3 linked regions of the Homo sapiens genome follow. The protein of the gene in region 2 interacts with the protein of the main gene of each other region in a biochemical or structural test. Each region holds a gene or a part of one and is shown on either strand. Other genes may lie near its edges.

Region 1 (3,723 bases), on a different chromosome or scaffold from region 2:
GTGGTGGTGATGGGGATAAAGAAGAGAAGAGAGGGCCGGGCATGGTGGCTCATGCCTGTAATCCCAGCACTTTGGGAGGCTGAGGCAGACGGATCATGAGGTCAAGAGATCAACACCATCCTGGCCAACATGGCGAAACCCCGTCTCTACTAAAAATACAAAAATTAGCCAGGCGTGGTGGTGCGCACCTGTAGTCCCAGCTACTCGGGAGGCTGAGGCAGGAGAATCGCTTGAACCCAGGAGGCGGAGGTTGCAGTGAGCCGAGATTGCACCACTGTATTCTAGCCCAGTGACAGAGCACGACTCTGTCTCAAAAAAAAAAAAAAAAAAAAAGAGAGGTCCAAAAGAGCAAGGACTCAAACAGCGGCAATGGCGCCATGCCCCTTCTTTGGGCTCCCAAAGGTCAAACCCAAAGAAGAGGTCAGTAAACAACTGGCTGGGCGCAGTGGCTCACGCCTGTAATCCTAGCACTTTGGGAGGCCGAGGTGGGTGGATCACCTGAGGTCAGGAGTTCAAGACCAGCCTGGCCAACATGGTGAAACCCCATCTCTACTAAAAATACAAAAATTAGCTGGGCATGGTGGTGGGCACCTGTAATCCTAGCTACTTGGGAGGGTGAGGCAGGAGAACTGCTTGAACCCAGGAGGTGAAGGTTGCAGTGAGCTGAGATCATGCCACTGCACTCCAGCCTAGGCGACAGAGCAAGACTCTGTCTCAAAAAAAAAAAAGAAGAAACACATAATCCTTGTCCTCAAACTAAGGTGTAGGCTTGAGCCCAATGAGTACATAGGAAAAAAAACACATAAAAACACATAAACGTATTAAGCAAATTATTAACAAGTAAAAGTCAATAATTTATGTAAGTTGTAAATATACAAAAAAGAACAAATGGTACAGATTAATCACAGAAAGCTTTCTGCAGAAAGAAGTTTTAAGAACTGGACTTTCAAGGGCAGAAGGAATCCCGAGCGACAGAGAAGAGGGTTGAGGCCTGGAATGGGATTCTGAATCAAAGCTCTTTACCTTCCAAGTGTTGGGGGGCAGGTTCCCTGTTCACAAGGCTCCAACCCCCTGATGCCTCCACTCAGTGCCACTGAAGAGATTCTCCCAGTAACCCATCTTGTTGGCTATTCTCCGACTGAGTATTCCTTCCCAGTGACAAGCTCCATCGCCCAGGGGATGAATGTGATGTCACAATCAGGAGTACTCTAGTAATAGGAACAAGGAAGAGAAAGGAGAGTCAGGAGAACTACCTCCACTTGGCAAGGAGACTGGACAGATGGATCTGGCAGTTGGTTGGGGAGGATGAGACAACTCCATTAAGCACTACAGTTTTCAGTGCTAGGCAAATAAGACTACCTTCTAAGGAGGGAGCTCACCAGCTAAGGAAGCACACACACGGGGTCCAGTAGATTTGAACATAGCTGGGAGGGGGAAAGAAAAGGACAAGAGAGGCCGGGCGTGGTGGCTCACGCCTGTAATCCCAGCTCTTAGGGAGGCCAAGGCGGGTGGATCACGAGGTCAGGAGATCAAGACCGTCCTGGCTAACACGGTGAAACCCCGTCTCTACTAAAAATACAAAAAATTAGCTGGGCGAGGTGGCAGGCGCCTGTAGTCCCAGCTACTCGGGAGGCTGAGGCAGGAGAATGGCGTGAACCTAGGAGCTGCAGCTTGCAGTGAGCCGAGACCGCGCCACCGCACTCCAGCCTGGGCGACACAGCAAGACTCCGTCTTAAAAAAAAAAAAAAAAAAGACAAGAGGAAAAGTAGAGGAGTTGTTGGAGATTTAAGATTCTTTTATTCAGTGCACATAACTACCAGTAATAATGATTCCAAATCTGTGACTACAAAATGCATAGATCCAGGTTGCGATGGCTCACGCCTGTGATCCCAGCACTTTGGGAGGCCGAGGCGGGTGGATCACCTGAGGTCAGGAGTCGGAGATGAGCCTGGCCAACATGGCGAAACCCCATCTCTACTAAAAATATAAAAATTAGCCGGGTATGGTGGCAGATGCCTGTAATCCCAGCTACTCAGGAGGCTGAGGCAGGGAGAATTGCTTGAACCCAGGAGGCGGAGGTTGCAGTGAGCCAAGATCGCGCCACTGCACTCCAGCCTAGGCGACAGAGCAAGACTCTGACTCAAAAAAAAAGCAAAATGCATAGATCCATAATACATTATGTGTACAGGATGATGCTTTAATGCAGAGGTCCCCAAATCCCCAGATGGACCAGTACCAGACTGTGGCCTATCAGGAACCGGGTCGTACAGCAGGAGGTGAGCAGGAAACAAGCGAGCATTAAGGCCTGTGCTCCATGTCCTGTCAGATCAGCAGCGGCATTTGATTCTCATTGGAGCATGAACCCTATTGTGAACTGCCCATGCGAGGGATCTAGGTTGCCCACTCCCTATGAGAATCTAATGCCTGATGATCTGAGGTGGTAGAGTTCCATCACAAAACCATCCCCTCGCCCACCATCTGTGGAAAAACTATCTTCCACAAAAAGGCTGGGGATGCTGCTTTAATGTTTCCAAAGTGCTTTCACATAAATTATTATTATTATTTCGAGATAGAGTCTCGCTCTGTCACCTAGGCTAGAGTGCAATGGCGCGATCTTGGCTCACTGAAGCCTTGGCCTCCCGAGTTCAAGTGATTCTCCTACCTCAGCCTCCAGAGTAGCTAGGATTACAGGCACCCACCACCATGCCCGGCTAATTTTTGTATTTTTAGTAGAGACGGGGTTTCACCATGTTGGCCAGGCTGGTCTCGAACTCCTGACCTCAGGTGATCCACCCGCCTCAGCCTCCCAAAATGCTGGGATTACAAGTGTGAGCCACCGCGCCTGGCCCACATAAATTATTATTATTTTTTTGAGATAGGGTCTTGCTCTATTGCCCAGGCTGGAGTACAGTGGCATGATCATAGCTCACTACAGCCTCGCCTTCCCAGCAGGCTCCAGCAATCCTCCCACCTCAGTCTCCCAAATAGCTGGGACCACAGGCACACACCACCATGCCTGGCTAATTTTTGTATTTTTGGTAGAGATGGGGTTTTGCCATGTTGCCCAGGCTGGTCTTGAACTCCTGGGCAGGCTCCAGCAATCCTCCCACCTCAGCCTCCCGAAGTGCTGGGATTACAGGCACCAGCCACTGCGCCCACCCCCAAATCTACACATTTAAACAAGTCAAGTAACCCTGCTGTAGTTTTTCTGTTGCTTCAACTGTCAAGTAGGGAAAATGATACCTGCCTTATATATTAATATAAGGTATATATAATATATACATATTTATTATATATATATATGTTATTTTTTTTTTGAGACAAAGTGTTGCTCTGTCGCCAGGCTGGAGTACAGTGGCACGATCTTGGCTCACTGCAACCTCTGCCTCCCGGGTTCAAGCGATTCTCCTGCCTCATCCTCCCAAGTAGCTGGGACTACAGGCATGTGCCACCATGCTGAGCTAATTTTTGTATTTTTAGTAGAGACGGGGTTTCACCATGTTGGCCAGGATGGTCTCAATCTCCTGACCTTGTGATCCGCCCGCCTCGGCCTCCCAAAGTGCTGGGATTATAGGCGTGAGCCACCATGCTTGGCCTATTTTTCTTTTTTTTTTTGAGATGGAGTCTTCCTCTGTCGCTCAGGATGGAGTGCAGTGATGCAATCTCCTCAGCTCACTCCAACCTCCACTTCCCAGGTTCAAACAATTCTCCTGCCTCAGCCTC
Region 2 (3,723 bases):
TGCAGTGAGCTGAGATCCTGCCACTGCACTCCAGCCTGGGTGACCAGAGCAAGACTGTCTCAAAAAAAAAGACGAGCAATGACCTTCAATGGCCTATAACAAAAAGGAAGGGGGCGGGTGGCAGTAACATTCTGCTCAGGAGTTAGCACTTTCAGGGTTAACCTGGGGATAGCCTGGCTCTCCAGCAGTGGGAAGAGGGTGACTTCCTCCCCCACAGGTTTGTAAAGGCTTACTCTTCCCTTTGCAGAGACAGAAGGGAGAAAATGCATAGACAACACTTCAGTGACTCACTCATGTTTGATGAAAGCTGGGAGGAGGCCTGGAGAATCCAAGCTACAAGCACAAAACGTACAAATACTGGAATCTCCCATCAAGAGAAGGAAATTTAGCCACCTATCTGGTTTGTCATTTTGCTGAACTTCCACTGAAGGAGGAAGGGCCAGCTTTAAACTCCACCCACCCTTTCCACATCCTTCTCAATTTTTGCTTTGATGGGAAAGTGGGGAAACTGGCGGCCCCACCATGGCTAAAAGAGAATCAAATCCTTTCTATACTTCCTCTCAAAGCAGAGGCCTAGTAGCTCCAGTCCACAGCTTAACCAAGCAGAGGGAATAGGGGCTTGTCCTGGTTACTGTAGGAAAGCCTCATCAGGCAGTCTCAGGGAAGGAAGATGACCACCCTCCTCACCCTTTCCATCTGCTGAGGTTACTTCATTCCAATCCATTAATGGGCTTCAAAGTGCTGCTGGGGGGAGTCCATTTAGCAGAGAAGCTATCACGGGGCCAAAGGTGGCGCCCACCCCCTACCCCATTTGTCGATAATGGGCCACAAAGTCTGAGGCTTGGCTGCACTCTAGACATAAAATATTCATTCAAGTCGACATAATACATAAGTAGGAACCTCATGGAAGCTCCTGGGAGAAGAGAAATGCCAGCCAGGTGGCTAAGTGCTCAATGGGAAAGAGTTCATGAAGGCCTGGGTTAGTCCTGATCAAATGCCCACTGAGAATTGGGTTGTTCTGTCCAAAGGGGAAACAATCTAGTCTGAGAAGTTCTGACTCCCAAAAGCTCGAACCCTGCAAACCTCTTAGGCAAGCAAAGTCTCAATCTTTTCCTACCTCATAGGCACCAACTCTGCTTAGGACATTTATGCTGAGAAAAATCTCCAGCCCAAACTTTGGTTGGTCTGAAAGATTAAGTTATCCTTGTGCAAACTTTATTTTAATCTGCAGCAGGCCGAGTTTCAACAACTGTCTTATATCCATCTGTTTAGCTACTTTCCGAAGTCCATAAATTGGAGAAAAGTAATTTTTTTTTTCTGAGATAGTGTCTTGCTCTGTCACCCAGGCTGAAGTGCAGTGGCACAAACACAGCTCAATGCAGTCTCGACCTCCCCAGCTCAAGCCATCCTCCTGCCTCAGCCTTCTGTGTAGCTGCAACCACAGGCATGTGCCACCATGCCCAGCTAAATTTAAAAAAATTTTTTTGTAGAGATGGAGTCTCACTTTATTGATCAGGCTGGTCTTGAACTCCTGGCCTCAAGCAATCCTCCTGCCTTGGCTTCCCAAAGTGCTAGGACTACAGGCATGAGCCATGGTGCCTGACCAGAGAGAAATTATTCTAATTTACTAGGTACAGTTACTTTTCAGATTCAAAGGTTACGAACTCCAAGGACTCCCAAAGCCCTTGCTCTAACAACACTTCCTTCCTGATCTCTAGGGCCAAGCCGAAAGTGACACTATTTGGTCTGACATTCACCCACATTCCTGACCAGAAGGCAGCACCACCAAGGACCCCCTGGCCAGAATCAAAGGACAGAGTGAGAATTAGCACCAGGGCACACTGCTGCACAGCTCAGAGTGTGGACTGAGATGCTAGCTAGCCGATCCAATCTACCTAAGTTACACCAAAAGCAAAAAAAAAATATTTATCCAGCAGATCACCTGAGGTCAGGAGATCGAGACCAGCTTGGCCAATATGGCAAAACCCCGTCTCTACTAAAAATACAAAAATTAGCCAGCATGGTGGTGGGCGCCTGTAGTCCCAGCTACTCCCAGGAGGCTGAGGCAGGAGAATCGCTTGACCCGGGAGGCGGAGGTTGCAGTGAGCCGAGATCGCATCGCTACACTCCAGCCTGGGCGACAGAGCAAGACTCTGTGTCAAAAAAAAAAAGAGTTTTATATATATATATATTTTTATCCAGAATCAACAATGGGGGTCCAGTGAGAGTGTTTGGAGTAGTTCAGCTGTTCCTTATAGGATCTTGTAACTTTGTTTTCTTCACCAGTACTTCTAAACTCCCCTTCCTAGAACTGAGAGAATAAACAATGCCGCTCACTGCCTAGAAGCCTGACAGCAGCCCCCTCCCTTCCCACTGCAGCAGAAGTGGGGCAAGTTTTCTCTCAATCCCTCTCTCATAGTTTCTGAGGCCCAGAGGTGGGGCAGGTCCCAGATGGAGTAGCCTCTCCCCCAGGTGTTATGGAAAACTCTAGCAGGTGAACTCTGGAAGCTGGACCTTTCTCCAGGCTTGCCTGTGACTGCTGCTGCTGGCTGGAAGACAAACAGTCATCTTGCTGATTGCTTTCACAACTGCCAAGCTTCAGGCCAGCAGAGTCATTTGGAAAAGAAGTGAACAAAAAGCTCAGCTCACAAACTAAGAATCCCCCAAGCTACGAGCCCCAGATTAGAACCCTCCTTCTGCAAAAGCAGGAAGTCTATGGCTGTGAAAAAGCACATCTGGAATCAGGTGTCACAAAAACCATCTTAAAGACAGGGCTTAACTTTTTTTTTTTTTTAATCTCCTACTTTCACTGTTATAAGCGAAGTGGACAGCACACAGGCAATCTCCCTGTAACGCAAGGTTTATTTTTATGCTTCAACATTTTCAGTGTCTGTGTGTTTCAGAGTGATTAAAGGGCTCCTGGAAACAGGTTCTCATCAGCCACATTTTTAAAGAAGAGGGAGAGGAAGAGCAAGAAAAGAGACTGGAGACAACCAGTGGTGTTTGTTTACCTATTTTCTGGTAAAACCAGTTTTAAATTTAAATAAGGTGACAGAGGACCTTTAGGGGAGGAAATCAGCCCAACTAAATCCCCTTTTTAAAAAAAATAACATTAAGACTATAGTAATGACCAAGCTTCCATGACTACTTTATCTAAAATCACAACAGGACCAAGAAGAGGTTTCTTTCACTTGGTGGCATGATCTATTCTCGGAGGCCAGTGTTTGATATACCTGGCCTTGTGACCTGAGGAGCTGCTGCTTGTCTTTTTTCCCGTTTTAAAGAATACAGGAATCAGGCCCGGCGCAGTGGCTCACACCTGTAATCCCAGCACTTTGGGAGGCCGGATCACGAGGACAGGAGACTGAGACCATCCTGGACAACATGGTGAAACGCTGTCTCTACTAAAATCCAAAAAATTAGCCGGGCGTGGCGGTGTGTGCCTGTAGTCCCAGCTACTCAGGAGGCTGAGGCAGGGGAATCGCTTGAACCCAGGAGGCGGAGATTGCAGTGAGCCAAGATTGTGCCACTGCACTCCAGCCTGGCGACAGAACGAGACTCTATCTCAAAAAAAAAAAAAAAAAAGAATACAGGAATCTGTCTGGAATAGGTGCATCCAAGGTTTTCCAAAGTCCCTGCTTTTACTGGAATGAGACTTAATATTAAATCGATACAGTGACTGGCTACCCTGAGAACAACAGTAGAAGGTATGAAGGGGCTAAG
Region 3 (3,500 bases), on a different chromosome or scaffold from region 2:
TGCGGCTACTCGGGCAGATGGTCTCTGCAACAGGAAGGGAAGCTGTAGCTAGAACATCTGTTAACACAGTCTCAACCCAAAGCCTGCTTTGTTAGTGAGGGTCTTCCCTTCTCTGGTCCCAACCCAATTCTTCCTCTACCCTATCTCCTACTGATGCCCTTCACTCAGGTGACAAATACTGCCTGTCCCCTGCCCGTGCTCCAAGCTTTTCCATGTGTACACCTCTGCATGGGGCAGCATGCATTGTTGAAATAGCCTTTCCCCCTGGGTGGAAAGCCTAGTGCCTCTTGTGCACAGCTATCTGGTCCCTTGAACCAGGTAAGTAGTCTCCTCTATCATTTCATAACTGGTTGCAGCTGTTGTTCTAACCTTCACTGCGCACCAAGATAGCAGGCCACGTACAGAGAGCAGTTAACGGAGTGGCAGAACAGTGCTGGGGTGCAGGTATGGCTCAGCTCTTTGCACTAAGCCTGCCCCTGAGCCAGCTGCCACTCCAATTATGGCTTCGGATAGGTCTGCCTTTGCATTCCTTTATATTAATTTCACAATGTCCAGATCTGCTCTCAGGAGATGTTTTCCATCTCTCTCTGATCAGTTCTCAGCTGCTTCCATGAGCTACATCTCCATTAAACATTTCTCAAAAATGCCTCCTTTTCTCTCTCTGAATAGCCTTTTTTTTTTTTTTTTTTTTTTGAGACAAAGACTTGCACTGTCACCTAGGCCAGAGTGCAGTGGCGCGATCTTGGCTCACTGCAACCTCTGCCTCCAGGGTTCAAACGATTCTCCTGCTTCAGCCTCCCGAGTACCTGGAATTACAGGCGTGTGCCACGACACTCAGCTAATTTTTGTATTTTTAGTACAGACGGGGTTTTACCATGTTGGCCAGGCTGGACTGGAACTCCTGGTCCCAAGTGATCCACCCGCCTCAGCCTCCCAAAGTGCTGTGATTATAGGTGTAAGCCACCGTGTCTGGCCTCTGAACAACTTTTTCAGCAACTAAAAAAGCCACAGGAGTTGAACTGCTAGGATTCTGACTATGCTGTGGTGGCTAGTGCTCCTACTCCTACCTACATTAAAATCTGTTTTTTGTTCTCTTGTAACTAGCCTTTACCTTCCTAACACAGAGGATCTGTCACTGTGGCTCTGGCCCAAACCTGACCTTCACTCTGGAACGAGAACAGAGGTTTCTACCCACACCGTCCCCTCGAAGCCGGGGACAGCCTCACCTTGCTGGCCTCTCGCTGGAGCAGTGCCCTCACCAACTGTCTCACGTCTGGAGGCACTGACTCGGGCAGTGCAGGTAGCTGAGCCTCTTGGTAGCTGCGGCTTTCAAGGTGGGCCTTGCCCTGGCCGTAGAAGGGATTGACAAGCCCGAAGATTTCATAGGCGATGGCTCCCACTGCCCAGGCATCAGCCTTGCTGTAGTCAATCACTGCCCTGGGGCCAGGACGGGCCGTGGACACCTGCTCAGAAGCAGTGGGTGAGACATCACGCTGCCCGCCCATCTAACCTTTTCATGTCCTGCACATCACCTGATCCATGGGCTAATCTGAACTCTGTCCCAAGGAACCCAGAGCTTGAGTGAGCTGTGGCTCAGACCCAGAAGGGGTCTGCTTAGACCACCTGGTTTATGTGACAGGACTTGCATTCTCCTGGAACATGAGGGAACGCCGGAGGAAAGCAAAGTGGCAGGGAAGGAACTTGTGCCAAATTATGGGTCAGAAAAGATGGAGGTGTTGGGTTATCACAAGGCATCGAGTCTCCTGCATTCAGTGGACATGTGGGGGAAGGGCTGCCGATGGCGCATGACACACTCGGGACTCACCTCTGGGGCCATCAGACAGCCGTTTCCGCCCCGATCCACGTACCAGCTGCTGAAGGGCAACTGCAGGCCGATGCTCTCATCAGCCAGGCAGCAGCCAAAATCTGCGATCACCAGCCAGGGGCAGCCGTCTGGGAAGGAGCAAGCAAAGTGACCATTTCTCCTCCCCTCCTTCCCTCTGAGAGGCCCTCCTATGTCCCTACTAAAGCCACCAGCAAGACATAGCTGACAGGGGCTAATGGCTCAGTGTTGGCCCAGGAGGTCAGCAAGGCCTGAGAGCTGATCAGAAGGGCCTGCTGTGCGAACACGGAAATGCCTCCAGTAAGTACAGGCTGCAAAATCCCCAGGCAAAGGACTGTGTGGCTCAATTTAAATCATGTTCTAGTAATTGGAGCTGTCCCCAAGACCAAAGGAGCTAGAGCTTGGTTCAAATGATCTCCAAGGGCCCTTATACCCCAGGAGACTTTGATTTGAATTTGAAACCCCAAATCCAAACCTAAGAACCAGGTGCATTAAGAATCAGTTATTGCCGGGTGTGGTGGCCTGTAATGCCAACATTTTGGGAGGCCGAGGCGGGTAGATCACCTGAGGTCAGGAGTTCAAGACCAGCCTGGCCAACATGGTGAAACCCCTGTCTCTACTAAAAATACAAAAAAACTAGCCAGGCATGGTGGTGTGTGCCTGTATCCCAGCTACTCGGGAGGCTGAGACAGGAGAATTACTTGAACCTGGGAGGTGAAGGAGGCTGAGACAGGAGAATCACTTCAGCCTGAGCAACACAGCGAGACTCTGTCTCAGAAAAAATAAAAAAAGAATTGGTTATTTGTAAAAGGGTCCACACAAAATTCCTTTAAAAAGCCAGTTCCTGGCTGGGCGCAGTGGCTCACGCCTGTAATCCCAGAACTTTGGGAGGCCGAGGCAGGCGGATCACGAAGTCAGGAGTTCCAGATCAGCCTGACCAACATGGTGAAACCCCGTCTCTACTAAAAATACAAAAATCAGCCAGGTGTAGTGGCGTGTGCCTGTAATCCCAGCTACTCAGGAGGCTGAGGCGGGAGAATTGCTTGAACCCGATAGGCAGGGGTTGCAGTGAGCCAAGATCATGCCACTGCACTCCAGCCTGGGCGACAGAGTGAGACTCCGTCTCAAAAAAAAAAAAAAAAAAAAAAGCCAACTCCCAGCTGGGCGTGGTGGCTCATACCTGTAATCCCAACATTTTGGAGGCTGAGGTGGGTGGATCACTTGAGGCCAGGAGTTTGAGACCAGCCTGGCCAACAGTGAAACCCCATCTCCACTAAAAATAATAATCCCAGCGCTTTGGGAGGCCGAAGCAGGTGGATCACGAAGTCAGGAGATAGAGACCATCCTGGCTAACATGGTGAAACCCCGTCTGTACTAAAAATACAAAAAAATTAGCCGGGCGTGGTGGTGGGCGCCTGTAGTCCCAGCTACTCGGGAGGCTGAAGCAGGAGAATGGTGTGAACCTGGGAGGTAGAGCTTGCAGTGAGCCGAGATCATGCCATTGCACTCCAGCCTGGGTGACAGAGCGAGACTCAGTCTCAAAAAAAAAAAAAAAAAAAAATCAAAAATTAGCTAGGCGTGGTGGCACCTGCCTGTAATCCTAGCTACTCAGGAGGCGGAGGCACGAGAATTGCTTGAACCTGGGAAGCAGAGGTTG

Evidence for each region.
Region 1: of the proteins of MARK2 (region 2) and RNF41, one has a biochemical effect on the other in vitro, tested with the Homo sapiens proteins (one study listed by BioGRID).
Region 3: of the proteins of MARK2 (region 2) and PINK1, one has a biochemical effect on the other in vitro, tested with the Homo sapiens proteins (one study listed by BioGRID).

Annotation. Positions count from the first base shown.
Region 1 is NC_000012.12:56,215,406-56,219,128, forward strand, and holds part of RNF41 (E3 ubiquitin-protein ligase NRDP1), read right to left. Parts: intron 1,209-3,723; 5' UTR 1,024-1,208; intron 1-1,023. UniProt on the Homo sapiens protein: Acts as E3 ubiquitin-protein ligase and regulates the degradation of target proteins. Polyubiquitinates MYD88. Negatively regulates MYD88-dependent production of pro-inflammatory cytokines.
Region 2 is NC_000011.10:63,842,080-63,845,802, reverse strand, and holds part of MARK2 (serine/threonine-protein kinase MARK2), read right to left. Parts: intron 1-3,723. UniProt on the Homo sapiens protein: Serine/threonine-protein kinase. Involved in cell polarity and microtubule dynamics regulation. Phosphorylates CRTC2/TORC2, DCX, HDAC7, KIF13B, MAP2, MAP4 and RAB11FIP2. Phosphorylates the microtubule-associated protein MAPT/TAU.
Region 3 is NC_000001.11:20,646,958-20,650,457, reverse strand, and holds part of PINK1 (serine/threonine-protein kinase PINK1, mitochondrial precursor), read right to left. Parts: intron 2,144-3,500; exon of another isoform or gene 1,954-2,143; coding exon 1,826-1,953; exon of another isoform or gene 1,464-1,825; coding exon 1,227-1,463; exon of another isoform or gene 25-1,226; coding exon 1-24. UniProt on the Homo sapiens protein: Serine/threonine-protein kinase which acts as a sensor of mitochondrial damage and protects against mitochondrial dysfunction during cellular stress.